Linked DNA regions of Homo sapiens: region 2 is linked to region 1. The links come from fine-mapping of genetic effects on gene expression. A gene starts in region 1. The other region holds a variant in brackets. All regions are shown on one strand. Distances are between the middles of the regions.

What was found. PIP is the estimated chance that this variant, and not a neighbour inherited with it, causes the effect. A credible set is the group of variants that fine-mapping cannot tell apart.
Region 2: its variant is the best candidate, but not a certain one, in a credible set for the expression of CALB1 in stomach (GTEx, PIP 0.60).

Annotation. Positions count from the first base shown.
Region 1 is chr8:90,079,934-90,085,322 of GRCh38, reverse strand. CALB1 (calbindin 1) reads left to right here and starts at 2,444. Exons shown (of 11, transcript NM_004929.4): 1 at 2,444-2,704; 2 at 3,221-3,297. The coding sequence starts at 2,626.
Region 2 is chr8:90,323,716-90,329,104 of GRCh38, reverse strand. The region is part of intron 2 of LINC00534 (long intergenic non-protein coding RNA 534); the gene reads right to left. The region is part of intron 6 of LOC124901975 (a long non-coding RNA gene); the gene reads left to right. Among named protein-coding and RNA genes, the nearest start is that of LINC00534, 100 kb to the right of the region's middle. The variant A/G (reference allele first, on the strand shown) is at 3,268.

The DNA of each region.
Region 1 (5,389 bases):
TAGAGCTCCATAATCTACATTAGTTCCCTCAAAAGCCACTTCATATAAACATAAAAAGAACACACAAAAAAAACTATGTCCAAACTTGCTGTTTGGACATAGTTCCAAGGAAGTCTCCCATTTATTTCTCACTCTCTCTCAAGTCACAGCACCTATACATTTCTAAATGGAAATTTGGAAGTTGCCATAGCTTCAGGAAAGTGAATAAGAAAAAAGATTACTTTCATATAAATATTTTTAACTTTTACAAATTGTCTTGTAATACTTTTGGAAGTTAAGATAAAATTCTAAAAAACCAACAAACAGATTATGGTGAAAATGTTTAGGAATTTTTACCACAGTGTGTGGTCTCTTTTTAGGAAGAAAATTAATTTTAATTACTTTTTAAAATAGTAGAAATGTTGCTCTTTTTTCATCAGTTTGTTCAGTCCATATTCCTACATACTTTTTCTAGCATTTTTCTTTGTCTCAGAACTGTATCCAAAGTCTAGACATTGTTAGCTCTGTCAAGACTAGCAAGGGTCAGAGTGATTCTTCAAGTCATTCCTTAGTCACTGCATTCTCACTCTCTCTTCAAAGTTTATTCTCTAGCGCTGGTCTCCAAGTTCACACACTATATTTTTCACACAGCGACCCTGGCCACTAACATAGGACCAATAGGACCATCAGTGAGAATCAGATGAGGTATCATAAGTAAAAATAATGTATGAACTGGAAAGTACTATGGAAGTGAGGATTCCATTAAGAAGATTATTGAAATAGGCTAGCTTCAAATTGATGGGTCTCTGAAAAGGATACTTACAAAAAAACTCCACAAATATAATAATGGATAGAGCCCTAATCTCAAAAACATAAATTTGAGGGGTCCCAAACTCAATTACACAAGGTTAAGAATATAGAGCTTGGTAAATTCTCTCTCTCTCTTTTTTTTTTTGGAGACAGAGTCTTGCTCTGTCACCAGGCTGGAGTGCAGTGGCGTGATCTTGGCTCACTGCAACCTCCGCCTCCCAGGTTCAAGCCATTCTCCTGCCTCAGCCTCCCAAGTAGTTCAGATTACAGGTGCCCACCCCCATGCCCAGCTAATTTTTGTATTTTTAGTAGAGACGGGATTTCACCATGTTGGCCAGGATGGTCTCGATCTCGTGACCTTGTGATCTGCCTGCCTCGGCCTTCCAAAGTGCTGGGATTACAGGCGTGAGCCACCGCGCCCGGCCGGTAAATTCATTTTAATTCACTTTAAGCTTATATTGGCTATGTGTAGATTTTCTCTTGTTCCTTCATTTTGTTTTAGTACAATTGTAATTAGACTTTTGGGATACATTTTTAGTGGACTTCAAGGTCCAAAAGACTCAAAGCCAAATACTCCAGAAGTACTTATGTAAATAAGAAATAATCCAAGTATATAATTAATTATATTAAAATACATAACACATATACATATGTATATATAGTACAGAACATATATACATATGTGTGTATACATACATATATATTACATATATATATATATATATATATATATACATAACATAGCATACATTTAGTTAGATAGCTTTTCCAACTCTGATGGTGACTTCCAATTTCTGAAAAATTCTCCAGTAGGGGTTGCTTGAAACAGAAAGAAGGAGACGTGTGTGTTAAGGCGACTGAATGGGGCTGTGGTGGTAGCACTAACGTACCTACTTATGAACCTGGTCAGATCCTTCCTTTCTCTTTGTTTTAGTTTACTCACTCCTTCTAAACTGAAAGGCAGTAAACTCTAGTATCTGTAAGATGACTTCCTTATCTAAGATTTTAAGGTTTTATAATTTAACTGTATTACTTTCCAATTATAATTCTACTTCATGCTGAAAAGAAATCCATAATCTAGCTTTTTTCGTGTTGGCAAGGTTAGTTCATAGAAACCATCTTAAGAAACATTGACATGATGGCACAAAATAGAGTGATTATTGATAGCAATCAACTCATTGTATACATTAATCAAATTATTCTAATGCGTGCCAAGGTTTCACATGCTTTTTTTTTTTCAAACAAATACTGAAAAGTCTTGGAGAAATCACACAAGAATATAATAATCTTTTATGTGATTTTACCCGTCATCAGCTTTCCCCTTCTATCTGAACATTTAAACCTCTCTAGATAACAAGAGTTTTACTATAATATTCAGGAATAAGATTCTTCCTGGACTAGGAGGATGTAGGGGGAAATGAGCCTCTGTTTTCAGCATCCAATCTCTGAGCAAAGGATCTCCCACCACCTGCTGCTTCCAACAAGCCCAAACTCTCGCTCCAGCTAGCTTTCCTGGGAACAGAGCAGAAAACTGGAAGGGAGGGGAAGAAGGCTGGTGAGAGCAAGAGGCGGGGAGTGAGGAATGGGAGGCTGGAGGAGGCGTGGCCCGGCTTGGGGCCGTCGGGATAAATACTGAGAACTGGGTGCGGGGTGTAGGGAGAGAACTCTGGAGGAACGCTGAGCTGAGCAGCACCGAGGACAGCGCCCGGCAGCGCCCGCGCCCAGGTCTCCCTCCGCAGCCCTGACTCGCGCACACGCTGAGCTTTTGCTCACTCCCCCTCGCGCGGACACAGACACACGCATATTCACACACCCAGACACACACCCCGCTGTACAATGGCAGAATCCCACCTGCAGTCATCCCTCATCACAGCCTCACAGTTTTTCGAGATCTGGCTCCATTTCGACGCTGACGGTGATTATCTTCTCTTTTTAACTGTTTCAAGACCCGTTTCCATGCCCCTTCCCATTCTTTGCCCTTTTCTGAGCCTCCTGATCCCATTATCCCTCCTTTCTATTCTTTACTTCTTCCCCCTTCTGCCTAATCTTATCTTCTTATCTCCCCGACTGGCCGCCAAACTGTCAACCTGAAAGTTTATATTGTTTCCACCGTAATCCCAAAACCTTAAACTTTTGTCTTTCCAGGAACGGTAATGGTAGGAGAGAGAGAGCAGGGATTGGGGAATGCTGCCCCCCCAAAGTTTCTGTGGCTGCGCTTAGCACCCCAACCATCCTCCTTTGTCCTCAGTGGATCTAAAGTTTGATACCCCAGGAGGGGAGCGCTTCACCGTCTGTACACTTTGCTGGTTAATCAACGTCCAGGCAAGAGAGAGCCTCTCGGGTCGCCAGAAAGATAACTGTCTTGGAAAGTGAACGGGAAAGACACTTGGAATGAGATATCTGACACCTGGGTGCCTCTTTGTCTTTGCAGGAAGTGGTTACCTGGAAGGAAAGGAGCTGCAGAACTTGATCCAGGAGCTCCAGCAGGCGCGAAAGAAGGCTGGATTGGTAGGTTCAAGTTTGCGAAAAAGAAAAAAAGACTTTTAACCCCCAAATTAAAACATTCTTGTGTTTTCACAAAAAGCCAGTAGCGTAAAGCGCTTTCTGGGTAATGTAAACGTTTATTGACTGCGAAAGGCAAGAAAAAACACTTTTCCAACTCGAATACAGAGAAATGGGAAAGGGGAAAGAGACTGAGAAAGAGAGAGGGGGAGAGAGAGAGAGAGAGAAGGGAGGGACAGAGAAGGGAGGGAAGAAGGGAGAAAGGGAGACAGACAGAGAGAGACAGATTTTCTAAAGGGAAAAACCTTGCTATCTGAAACTGGAGCTTTAAATATATATATATTCTATACTAGTACTTGCATTAATAGGTCTTAAAAGGGAACTGTGGGTGCATGAGATTCTTTAGCGGATCACCACCTCTACCACTGAGTTTGATTAGGTAATTTTTAAATTCTCTTTTACTGTGTGAGAAATAAGGGGGTGGAAATGCATTTCTGCCCCTTGGTGGTCAAGAAACAGATCTGCAGATTATGGATCTCTTACTCTATCACCAATTATTATTGTTGTGATGTTGATGTAGTTGGGGAGATGAGAAAACATCTTGTCCTCACTAAGGGTAAGTTGCCCAACTTGCAACCTAACAGTGAGAAAGAATTTAGCAAGAAAAGATCTTCATTTCTGTTGAAAGCAAGAAACCCAAAAGGTAGAGAAGTAAAAAGTAAAACAATTTTAAGAATTTCATGTATTGTAAAAAAAGCAAAGTGATACTCTGATGGGCAGCAATTGATGGTGTTTTGAAAATGGCTATGTTCGTTATTTAAGCCATTAGTTAATTAAACAAATAACCATTCTTATTAATTATAAATGACTCCCTTTGGGCATAAATTAACCTGTTAAGAAAATATGTTGTCAGCATAAATATAAAATACAGTCAGCTTTTAAACATAGATGAGATGGTTGTCCAGAGGAAAATGGGTTAAAAATTGTACTACTCTATTGAGGTTTATGTAACACTGCCTTTCAGAAGGCAGTGTTGAATTGGGATGAGTTACACGTTAATGGTCTTTGGCCTTTTTGACTACGTTTAGAAAGAGATTTTACACTACCAATGATGTATATATTATATAGCAGATCACCACCTCTAATATTGAGTGATATATATAAAATTTAATAATAGAACTTTTTGCCCTATCTAAATTGAAAATTGTGTAATATACATTTCTGTACAGCATATTCAAAAGAATCCCAGAGGGCTCTAAATGTATTATAATGCACTATAGAACTATCAGTTACAAAAATCATTGACCAAATTGATTTTAAACCAGATTGTGCTCTAGGGATTGTTTTACCCAGATTTAATATTATATAATCTAAAAGTATAATAGAACGGAATAAAATAGCATAAAAATGTTTTATATACTCTCCACCCTCCCCATGTCTTATATATTGCCATGTAAATAAATTTATGCAATACTGTCATTATAGCTTTATATATCTTTGGCTAATCTAATAAAAGCAATTATCTTCCTCATTTAAAAATACATATTTTAAAATCAGGTTGGAAAAGTCTTACTTTCCATAAAATTTAGAATTAAAACCTTGGAAGATGCTTCCAGCAGGTAATGATTATATTTTATTTTGTGCAGAAGTAATTTTAATATTGAAATCTATTTTCAGCTTAGAAATTTAAATATTCATGAACTTTAAAAAAATATTTTTCTTCCTCTGATTTTAATATTTGTACCTTTTTGTAAGCAATATCTTCATGTTGGAGATTTAGAATTTAATTATTTTTCTCTGTTTTGGAATATTCAAAGCTCCAATTATTAGACTATAATGTAATGATACTAAACAAGCATAGTTATAGGATTATATCAAGTTGCTTAATACCTTGATTCTTGAGCATTTTTCTGGAATGTAAATACAATCTGGATTTTTCTGAATTTAGTATTTTTCTTGATTTGGGTAGTTAAAATCTAAATCAAGATGTGGATTCAGAGTTTCATATAGTAGATACATGTTTCATTATACTACTAACTTCATTGCATTAAACCTACTTGTATATATTTCTTCTCTTTCTTTAGAACATAAAAATTGC
Region 2 (5,389 bases), 240 kb before region 1:
AGAACATAAAAAGGGGTGTGGCAGGCAGCACAGAGTACATTCAATCTCAATTCCTTTTAAATTTGCATTTCTTAGTAAAGTAAAAAATAAAATGCAGTAGCACTACATACCCACCAGAGGCTTAGCAGCCATTCATATATTTATGGGTCACGTAGATATGTAGATACACCTTTTGTGAAACTTCAAGTATTTTGCCTATTTTTGTATTGAGTTGTCTTTGTTTCCTTTATTGATTTGTGGAAACAGTTGATATTTAATATTTTCAGGGCAAGACTACACATAACTTCTCTGATTACCTAGTTTCTACTTTTGCGTTCTTTCTAGCTATTTAACACAACATTAAACCTCTCTACTGCAGCTTCCCCATCCACATACAAGAAATAAAAGTAATACTGTCTTACAGTTGTTGTGAGTACTAAATAAGTTTAAAAACATAGACCATATCAAACAAAACATGGCACACACTAAACACTCAAAAACCATACTAGCTATTATTATTTCTCTCTTTTTTTTTTTTTTTTTTTTTTGAGACAGGGTCTTGCTCTGTGGCCCAGGCTGGAGTGCAGTGGCACGATCACGGCTCACTGCAGCCTCAAACTCCTGGGCTCACATCGTCCTTTCTCCTCAGCCTCCTGAGTAGTCAGGACCATAGGTGTGCACCACCACAGCCAGCTAAGTTTTAGTTTTTAATTTTCTTTCTTTTTTTTTTTTCTGTAGAGGTGAGGTCTCACTACATTGCCCAGGCTGGTCTTAAACCCCTGGGTTCAAACAATTCTCCCACCTCACCCTCCCCAAGTATTGGGATTACAGGCATGAGCACTGCGCCCAGCCTATTATTATTTCTTATAGTAGCATTGTGTTAGTTTGCTAGGGCTACCATAACAAAGTACCACAGACTGGGTGGTTTAAACAACAGAAGCTTATTTTCTCACTGTTCTAGAAGTCAAAGATCAAGGTGTTGGCATGGTTGGCTTATTCTGAGGCTTCTTTTTTTCTGAGGCTTGTAGATGGCTGTCTCTTCCCTGTGTCTTCATGTGATCTTCCATCTCTACATGTCTATATCCTGATTTCCTCTTCTTACAACATACCAGTGATTTTAGGTTACAGCCCACCTTAATTACCTTATTTTATTGTAATCACCTCTTTCAAGACTCTATCTCCAAATACAGTCACATTCTGAGAAACATATTTCAACTCATAACAAATATATCAGAGATACTAGCAGGCTGTGTATCTTGGCAGTGAGAAAGGTTTAATCTTTACTTTTTGTAGAGATGGGGTCTCACTATGTTGCCCAGCCTGGTCTCAAACTCTTGGACTCAAGTGATTCTCCCACCTCAGCCTCCTGAGTAGCTGGGATTATAGGCAGGCATGTACCATTTGTGCCCTGCTGCTTTAATTTGGTTGGGTTTGGTTTGGTTATATTTGTTTTGTTTTTAATAATCTACCCTAAATTTAGGTCTTGATGATTCTTTCTTCCAGTAAGCCTCTCCTCTAGCATCAGTGGCTATACTACCCCCTTGAGGCTGAATACAAGAGGAGAGTAGATGGAGGAGTAGGTTGGTAGAGAGGTAAGGAATTAGATAGACCGAGGGACCACGGAGAGGGTAAGAAGCAAGATGTCCCAAACAAGAGCTGTATCTTTCCTTCTCAGCCTCAATTTGCACTTTCAAAGCTACTGTTCTCATCTTGACTCTGCAAATTTGGCTCTCAGACTGCTTCAGTGTGAGAAATGGAAGGCAGGTAAAGCAAGTTGGCCACAACCATTTTACTATTATTTTTTAAAATATTATATTGGTATGGATAGACAAGAGCTCTGTTTGAAAGAGCTTGCCAGCCATCTTGAGTTTGGATTTTATATTATGAATGATAGAAAGCTGATCTATATTTCTAGATACCGCATTAAGATGGTCAAAGTTTGGAGAATTATAATCTTGTAAATAAAGAGGAAGAAATAAACAGAAGAGAGAAAAACTAATGGCAGGGCAGGCAAACAAGGCAGGTGACACACACCTAAGATAAAGTAAAGGCTGCAGAGGTAGAAGAAACAGCTGGATTAGAAAAATGATCCCTAATCTCAAGTGGGCAGGGTTTGGGTGAGTGCAAAGTAGCAATTGCTGATTGTGAATTACAAGTCAGAAATGATGTCATTAACTAAGACTCAGAATACAGGAAGAGAAGCAAGTCCGGGAACAGAGCCTATCCACTAGGCTGTGGAGTCTTTTATTTATTTATTTATTTATTTATTTATTTATTTATTTATTTTCCTCTCGTTTATTTTCAAATATAAACATTTAAAGCCTACAGGTGTGTCTTGGTCCATTTAAGCTGCTATAACAAAATACCATAGACATAACAACAGAAATGCATTTCTTACAGTTCCAGAGTCTGGGGAGTCTAAGATCAAGGTGCTGGTAAAGCTGGTGTCTGATGAAGCCCTGTTCCCTCATAGACAGTGGTCTTCTCATTCTAATCTCACATGGCATAGGGGCAAGGAGCCTCTCTTGGACCTCTTTTATAAGAGTACCAATCCCATTTATGAGGGCTTCAACCCCATGAGTCCCCACCTCCTAATACCACTACCTGAGAGGTAAAGATTTCAACAAATGAATTTTAGGGAGATATAAACATTTATACCATAGCAACATGTAACTCAAAAATGTAGAGCCATTTTTAGACATGTTGAGTTTCAGGAGCCTGTGGAACAGTCAGGTGCTGATAGACAAAAGTCAGCTAGAAATGGGTTTGGTAGTTAAGGTAGAGATATGTATTTGGAAATATATTAGTTTTTGATTACTAATCCTGGAATTGATACCAACCAGGAGGAGGAAATAGAGTGAGAAGAAAAGACAGCTGTGGGTATTGCTATCTAGAATGAGACAAAGGCAGTGGGCAACATGAGGACAGAGAAGAGAAGGCGAATGGTGCCCAAATGAAGGCTAATCAGGAAGGGCAGTAGGAAAAGCACAGCTGACACTCATCAGAAGAGGCAAGGTCACCGCATGCTTGACTGTACCTTATTGTCCTTCATTCTCCACTCCAAGACATGTGCAAATCCTATTTTTTTTCAGGCTCCTGATACAGTTTGGGTAGTGGTTAAACCACATAGGCTCTGGAGCCAGACTACTGAATTTCAATATCCATCTCTATTACTTACCAGGTATATGACCTTGGACTAATTACAGAACCTCTTCCTTCAGTTTTCTCATTTATGAAATGAAAGTAATTTATGAAATGATTTTATGAAATTTTTTTGAAATTTCATAA[A/G]TTATGAAAGTATGAAATGATTTTATGAAATTATGAAATGATTTATGAAAATAACTCATGAAATTAAAGTACCTGTATCATGGGGTTTGGTCATTTAAAAAATGGGAAACTATATGTGTAAGGATTAACACTCAATAAGTGTTAGTTGTCATTAATATGGAGCAAAGGTACCATGTTGTAAGATGGTTGCAACTTAAAGCAGGTCTTGCCATGGGACCCCAGAGAGAATCCACTGAACTAATGTGCAAGTGAATAAATGCACTTATTCCTTTCAATTTTAAGTCTTTTCTAGAAAGAAATATGCCCAGGAGTTTTACTCAGCATCATCTATTATGTTGCTGCCACTTGAGCCAGTGTAGGGAAACAACTAAATAAAAAACTTGAAGCAGAATATTCAAATACACAAATTCCTAACTCCATACCTCCTCATAATTATAAGCAAGGAGACTCTTCCAGGTATCTGGCTAGACAACCTCAATGGCTTCATCTCTGAAGACATGCTACCATTAAGCAAACTTGGGTTTACATTACCATGACATGTTCTTGTCATACATCAATTATTGCTGCCCACAGCATACTCAGAGTAGAATAAGTATTTTTGCTTGGACTTTCACTCATATACAATAAGCACTTAAGAGTCAAAATCCGTAAGGAAACAGTGGTTTCAGTGCAGCACCTCGGGTACCTTCCATTTCTAGATTTAGTACAGCCTTCTTCACAGTTTACACAGGGTTTGGTTCTCTGATTTACTGTACAGCATTTTCTTCCCCAGACAGTTCAGAGAAAACAAAGTGTTCCTGTGTTTTCTCCACTTTCACATATGTGAGACAAGAGCACCCAGGGCTGGAAATGAGTGAAATCTAGGCACAGCAGGGCAGGACTGGAGCTCAGGTTGGCCTTGGCTGTCATTCTTCCCACTTGAGCATTTCAGCCCAGTGTGTTATGGAGTGGTGAGAGAATCCCGTTTCCTATTAGCAATTTGTATATTTCCTCACACTCTCTCTGCAGTGGAAACTCACCATTTCAGCCTTCTGCCAGCACCTGCCACTTCCTTTTCTTTTGTGTATCTTTTATCTCCTCTTTATCTCTCCTCGCTCCAACAATGAGGTTATATTCCAGTTCCTTTCTTTTTAATATGAAACTCTGATATCACTAGAGCCCAGGCCTCACACTTCTGTCAAATTCCCAGGACATTCAACCTTCCCCAGAGTTATAGGGAGTGGGAGGAAGCAAACAAGGCTGAATAGGACGGCCACGCTGCATCGCACTGACCTCTGAGTCAGTTTCCAAGTGGGGATAATGATGTTCCATGATCAGGACAGGATTAAAGCAGTATATAAGAAAGAGCAAAATGTATGAGTCTGTGATAAATACCAGGAGGGGAATGAGTCACGATGTTCTCTCAGAATCCATTGTGTTAACCCAGCAGGGGTCAGGTAGAGAGGTTTTCTGGTGAACAGCTGCTCCTGTTTACCTTCAGCTCCACTTTTCCAATCATTTTGAACATCTTGTAAAGAGGATTAAAATTCATGGACTGAATCTAAGGGATCAAACTGCTAATAACGTATGCATTAAATCCAGAGGTCATCATTTGCTCTAGATGGAGGACATCACTTGAACTTGGATGTAGAGCTGTTACAAGTCCTCCATGGTCTATAGTTTAATGAGGATCTTTAATTCATGAGCTGGACTGATTTTTAAAAGTCACATTTTCTCAATTAAAAGTGTTATTAAAGCATTAATTTAACTTAGCTCATGTTTTCATTTTATCTAGTAGTCTCTGAAAGATCTAATTTTTTTTTAAAAAAATACCTGTATTACCAAATCTAATAGGTTAGTCTACATCCAGTGGATGAGAAAAGACAAAGTCCACAAAATATGTCTGGGGACTTTATCTACTCTTGTTATTTTGTTACAACCAAATATGGTCAAAAATCCTCAGAGTTGGGGAGCATCTATTTATGATCTTCCCACCCCATCCTGCAAAAAGCCACACCGTTACACTAGTCCTGGAAAGTACTTTAATATAGCAAACAATTGCCATTTGCAAGGATGAAGCCAATGATATAAGTATGTGCAAGATCCACAGGCTGTAAAGAAAACAGAATAAATAACTGAAGGT